Linked DNA regions of Homo sapiens: region 2 is linked to region 1. The links come from fine-mapping of genetic effects on gene expression. A gene starts in region 1. The other region holds a variant in brackets. All regions are shown on one strand. Distances are between the middles of the regions. Region 1 holds the start of FLVCR1-DT (FLVCR1 divergent transcript). Region 2 overlaps BATF3 (basic leucine zipper ATF-like transcription factor 3).

The links. PIP is the estimated chance that this variant, and not a neighbour inherited with it, causes the effect.
Region 2: its variant is the best candidate, but not a certain one, in a credible set for the expression of FLVCR1-DT in aorta (GTEx, PIP 0.61).

Annotation. Positions count from the first base shown.
Region 1 is chr1:212,857,078-212,859,980 of GRCh38, reverse strand. FLVCR1-DT (FLVCR1 divergent transcript) reads left to right here and starts at 1,843. Exons shown (of 2, transcript NR_027286.1): 1 at 1,843-2,215. FLVCR1 (FLVCR choline and heme transporter 1) reads right to left here and starts at 1,706. Exons shown (of 10, transcript NM_014053.4): 1 at 791-1,706. The coding sequence starts at 1,528. RefSeq lists silencers at 1,256-1,465, 1,546-1,605.
Region 2 is chr1:212,687,645-212,690,547 of GRCh38, reverse strand. The region is part of intron 2 of BATF3 (basic leucine zipper ATF-like transcription factor 3); the gene reads left to right. Among named protein-coding and RNA genes, the nearest start is that of BATF3, 11 kb to the left of the region's middle. The variant C/T (reference allele first, on the strand shown) is at 1,410.

The DNA of each region.
Region 1 (2,903 bases):
CATTTATGTGTCCCTTATGTGCCAGGAACTGTGCTGACTGCTAATATATGAAATTAAAAGGGAGCTGTTCACAATGACCTCTCAAAATGGAAACAATCTTCCCAGAACCCAATACCTTCCTTTCACAAATACACTGGTGACAAAAATAATACCCCAAGTCTTGTTCGTTACTGCATTGACAAATTTTCCATGTTAGGCATACACAAGCCAATACAGTTAATTATTATTATTATTATTATGGTTACAGTTTATTATTATTATTTGAGACAGAGTCTCACTCTGTCACCCAAGCTGGAGTGCAAAGGTGCAATCTCCGCTCACTGCAACCTCCACCTCCCGGGTTCAAGAGATTCTCCTGCCTCAGCCTCCTGAGTTGCTGGGACTACAGATACCCGCAAGCAGGCCTGGCTAATTTCTGTATTTTTAACAGAGACGGGGTTTCCCCATGTTGCCCAGGCTGGTCTGGAACTCCTGACTTGAAGTGATCCACCCACCTCGGCCTCCCAAAGTGCTGGGATTACAGGTGTGTGCCACCGCGCCCGGCCCAGTTAATTATTTTATAGGTAATTTTCAAAGCAAGATGACAAGGTCGTTTGGAAAATTTTGTCCTTACAAAGAAATTTATAGCCCACTTCAATCCAAGACGGCCTCCTATTCAACGGCTTCATCTCCTCTTTTATAGACAAATACCTCCTGGGGCAGTTCATCCATACAGGCCATAGTTCTCACGGCCTATGACTTTTTCCGGTCTTTTAAGGATCTGACTTTCACCTACCACTCCAGTACTTACCTGATTGCCCAGCACGGCGGTGGCACAAGCTGTGGACACCTCTTTGGGCCCAAACCACACTGAGGCGATGCGGGAGGGCAAGCCCAGGATGAACACCTGGGCCACCGAGCACAAGCACTGGCCCAACATGGTGACCCAGAAGAGATGCTGCTGCACACTGCCGCACTTGATCCAGGCACCCAGGCAGTTGAGGCCGGAGCCCAGCAGGGCGGTGAGCCGCAGGCCTCTGGTGTCCAGCAGCCAGGTGGCCGGGAAGATGAGGGGCACGTAGGCCAGCATGTACACCATGGACAGCCAGTCGATGTGCAGCAAGGTGACACCGTAGAAGCCCTCGAAGACGTTGCTAATGATGCTGTACTGGATCCACTGAAAGGCGTTGACCAGCGAGTACAGGCTGAAGATCAGGAGCACCACGAAGCGCCGCGGGGAGAGCGCCGTAAGGGGCAGCGGGCTGCTCTCGGCCCCCGGGGTCTCAGCTCCCGCGCCCGCAGGCAGCAGCCGGGCCTGGGTCTCCTCTTCTGGGGCCAGTGGAGTCTGAGGCCCGCCCAGAACTCCCGAGGCGGCAGCGAGGCTGTCCCGGGGGGCCCCATTCACCGGGAAGGTGCCCGCTTTGGGCCCGTTCTGCAGCTCCACGCTCTCCTTCCCAACGGGCGCGCCCCTCGGCAACGGGAGGTATCCTTTCGCGAGCGGGTGTCCGGGCGCCACCGCCGCCCCCTCCTCATCGTCTGGCCGCGCCATATCCCAGGCTCCCCGGCGCCACCTCGCTCCCCCGCCCCACTCCCCGACTCCGCTCTCCCGGCCCACAGCCCGAGGTCCTCCTGGGGCCCCACCTCCAACCCCTCGGCCCACCGCTCCTTCCCCGGTGGCGCGCGCCGCGAACCGCAATCCGCGCTACCGCGTGAACAGATGAAGGTCTCCTCCCCCGCGCCGCGCGGCAGTCACCCCTTGTCTGGTCCCGCCCCTAGAGTCGCGCGTCCTGCATGACTACGGCCCTCCGGCCAATCAGCGTGCGCCTTTGTCCGGCGCGAGAGCCAGTCGGGGAGCTACCGGGCGAGAACTTCGGGAGGCGGGGGAGGAAAGCGGCCGGCGAGCGCTGGCTGACATTTTCCTGCCCGGAAGGATGCATGGCCCGGGGTCTCCTGCACCTGAGGGTGGGCGGGAGGCGGCCCCGCGGGTTGTGTTGCTGGAAAAAGGGGTCTCGATCCAGACCCCAAGAGAGGGTTCTTGGGTCTACTTCAGGGAAGAATTGGAGGCGAGTCACAGAGCGCAGTGAAGGAAGCAAGTTTATTGGAATCTACTCCGTTAGAGAGTGCAAGTCCTCAGACTGCAGGAGGAGGAACTCCCGTCCTTCGGTAGTGTCACTACTTAGAGGCAGCTGTGAGGAGCTGTGATTAATCGTGGAATGTGCTGATGTGCCCACTAAAGGTAGGGGCTGTTGGTGCACTAATGACCATTAATCCTTCAACCTAAGCCTGCGCATTGACGTTATCTCTGAGTAGAGGGCTGGGCCGGGCTCGGTGGCCACGTCTGTAATCCCAGCACTGTGGGAGGCCGGACAGGAGTCTCCCTTGAGCCCAGGAGTTCGAGACCAGCCTGGGCAACATACTGAGATGCCATCTATTTAAAAAAAAAAAAAAAAAAAAAAAAGCCAGTAGCCAGGCGTGGTGGTGCATGCCTGTAGTCCCAGCTACTCAGGAGGCTGAGGCAGGAGAACTACTTGAACCTGGGAGGCGGAGGTTGCAGTGAGCTGAGATCGCACCACACTGCCCTCCAGCCTAGCCTGGGCGACAAAGTGAGACCTTGTCTAAAAAAAAAAAAAAAACTCAGGACATCTGGACAATTCCGCAGACTTGGTGGGAGATGTCCTGTATGGCCATAAATATTGTGTAATTATAATTGTTGGTCAGCTTAGAATGCGGCTATTTTCAGACCTTTAGCATTAACCTTATAGGTGCCTTGTGAGTGCCTAGTTACTCACTTTAACATGCAGTCGCTCTAGCCATGTTTTATTAAACCAGATGCCTGGTAAGCAGTGGCTCCTCTAACAAGTGGGCAGCTTGGAACTGGGAACGAGAGAGCCACCGAAACAGAATGAGGGAGACAAAGAAGTGGG
Region 2 (2,903 bases), 170 kb after region 1:
GCTCCTCTTGTTATTTTCAAAGGGCTCGTCTCACCTAAAGATTTTGACTTCTTCTCTTCTTGTTATTCCCTCAGCTCAATAAAAGTCCCTCAGCGGGTTTATGAGTAATGCTTAAATCCTAGAAGAGAAAGTCCTTATGGAGAAGGCAGATGAGGGGCCCGTGGGGCACCTGTCGGGCGGCTCTGAAGACTCTAAGCATGGGTTGGGGGAGGGCAGTGGACCTCAGGGAAGCCTCAGGCCACAGGGCTGCGCACGGCTTCCAGAGACAAAACTGGGAAGCTCAGAGCGTCTTGCTGCGGAATTCAGTATATGTAGAAAGGCAGCTTGGAATATTCTACCAAAGGAAGAGGGCTTCTTGTCCTTTGGAATCTACTTAAAATGTTAGCACATTGGAACTATTCAAATGTACTCTCCATTTTACTTGAAAGTCAAGGGCATTTCCTGCTGCAGGGTGGAGTGTGTGTGTGTGAGTGTGTATGTGAATGTGAATGTGGGGAGTCTGCATGTGAGTCTGAGTTTTTGTGAGTGTGTGTGACTGTGTGAGGTGTATGTATGTGTGTATGACTGTATGTGTGTGACTGTGAGAGTGTTTGTGTGACTGTGTGTTGATTGTGTATGTGTGTGAGAGTGTCTGTGGCTGGGTATGAGAGTGTGTTTGCAGATGTGTGTGTGACTGTGTGTATCTGTGTGTGTGTCTGTGGTTGTGTATGAGTGTGTGTGTGTGAGAGTGTGTGTGTCGGGCTGTGTATGAGAGTGTGTGAGTGTGTTTGCGGACGTGTGTGAGTGTGTGTATATGTGTATGTGTGTAAGAGTGTGTGAATGTGTATGAGAGTGTGTGAGTGTGTGTTTGCAGACGTGTGTGTGTGCTGCAGCTTTTCTCATCCCTCTGCTGCCTGCATGATTCCCTTGACGCCCTGGCTTCCATCCCATCCTCCCATCCAGACTCTCCCCTTGCCCACGGAGAGCTTATGGCTGGATTTGTAGACAGAATTCTCACTCCAGAACTAGAGCTTGTCAGAGGTCAAAGGAGGGCATGAAGGCTTGGGAGTGGGAGGCAGGGAGGAGGATAGAGGCAGAATGGGGCCAGTGTACTGGTGAAGCCACATGGCCCCAGAACAGCTTGCTGCCCTGGAGAGTGCTCCAGACCACCCTGGGAACCTGCCTGGGGAATGGCTCAGATAGACCCTACAGGCAGCCCCGCCAGACCCCTTGGTTCTTAAAGGGAGGAAGATGCTGAGAGTCCCTTCTGAAAGGAAAGGATGGGGTTAAAGAAGAAACAGAGGATGAGGGCTGAGGAATCACTGAGCATGTAGGTGCTGGTGCTGTGGCGCATCAGGCAGGGGGTAGAGGAGAGGAGTAGCAGAAGTTCCTAGGTCCTTTACATTTCTGATCTTTGGGGGGAGACATTA[C/T]TTCATATGAGTGAAATTGAATATGATACAAAATAGAATAGAACACATAATAAAAGATGTGGTTCCTGTAGGTGCTGTGGTCAGGGAAGCCTTCCTGGAGGTGGTGGGCTTGAGCTGGACCCATGCAGAAAAGGAGGAAGGCAGTCCAGTTGAGGATAACTGCAAGAGCAAAGGGGCAGGGTTGAGAATTTGCATGTGTCTTTGGGGGCTATAAGATCACATTTCTTTAGTGATACTCCCTTAAAATTACTAGTCAGAGAGAAAGTGTGATGAGTAACGCAATTGGGCCCTGAGCTTGGGAAATGCATGGTGTGCATGGTACAACAAAGCCTTACTATAAACTAGAAATGAACGAAAACATTTCAGCAAGATTTAAATGAGATTGCCAGCCTAGAGAGGGTCTCTATTGGCATGCCGTAGAGCTCTGCCATTGGCTATTTTTTGTAGAACTTATTAATGACTTGGATGAAGAAAAGGAAGACCTGTGTGTTAAGTTAGTGGATGGCTTAAAGCTGTGTGCTGTCACCATTCATGAGACGATGCAATTGAGATTCCAAAAGATTTTGCAATTTTGCTGGTCTGGAAGATGTCCAAATAAGGAATGAAATTCAGTGGAGATGGATGTAAAATCCTACCCTTAAGCCCCATAGCATCCATCATCATCCAAGGACGGACGGAGAAGCAGCACATGCAGATAAAGCTTGCATTTCTCTGCAGGCTCAGAGAGAATCCTCAGCGGCTTGGGCCCAGCACAGGAGAGGTCACTGCCACACATTTGCCCTTGGCATGGTCTCCAGAACCATGCATTGCATCCTGGGAGCAACATTTTCTGAGATATTCTGGTAAATTGGAGTGTGTGTTGGTGAGGGTCCCCAGAATGGCAAAGAAGAGCCTGATGCAAGGAACTCAGAGGACCTGAGATGCTGTATCCTAACATTTCAAGAACTGCGATATTGAAAAAAGCATTGGATCTACTAGATGTGGTTCTATTAAATGGAACCAAACCCAACAGGTACATTTGAAAGTGAGAGTGTTTGGATCAGTACAAAGAAGAGCTTTTTCTTTTTTTTTTTCTTTTCTCTCTTTCTCTTTCTCTCTCCTTCCTTCCTTCCTTCCTTCCTTCCTTCCTTCCTTCCTTCCTTTCTTTCTTTCTTTCTTTCTTTCTTTCTTTTTTTTTCTTTCTCTCTTTCTTCTTCCTCTTTTTGTTTTTTTGAGTTGGGATCTTTCTCTGTTACCCAGGCTGGAGTGCAGTGCTGTAATCATGGCTTATTGCAGCCTCGAAATCCTGGGCTCAAGCAATCCTCCTGGCAGAGCCTCTTGAGTACCTGAGACTATAGGTGTGCATCACCACACCTGGCTAGTTAAAACAAATTTTTTTAGAGATGGGGTCCCACTGTGTTGCCCAGGCTGGTCTCAAACTCCTGGCCTTAAGTGATCCTCCCACCTTGACCTCCCAAAGTGCTGAGATTACAGGCATGAGTCACCATGCCCAAC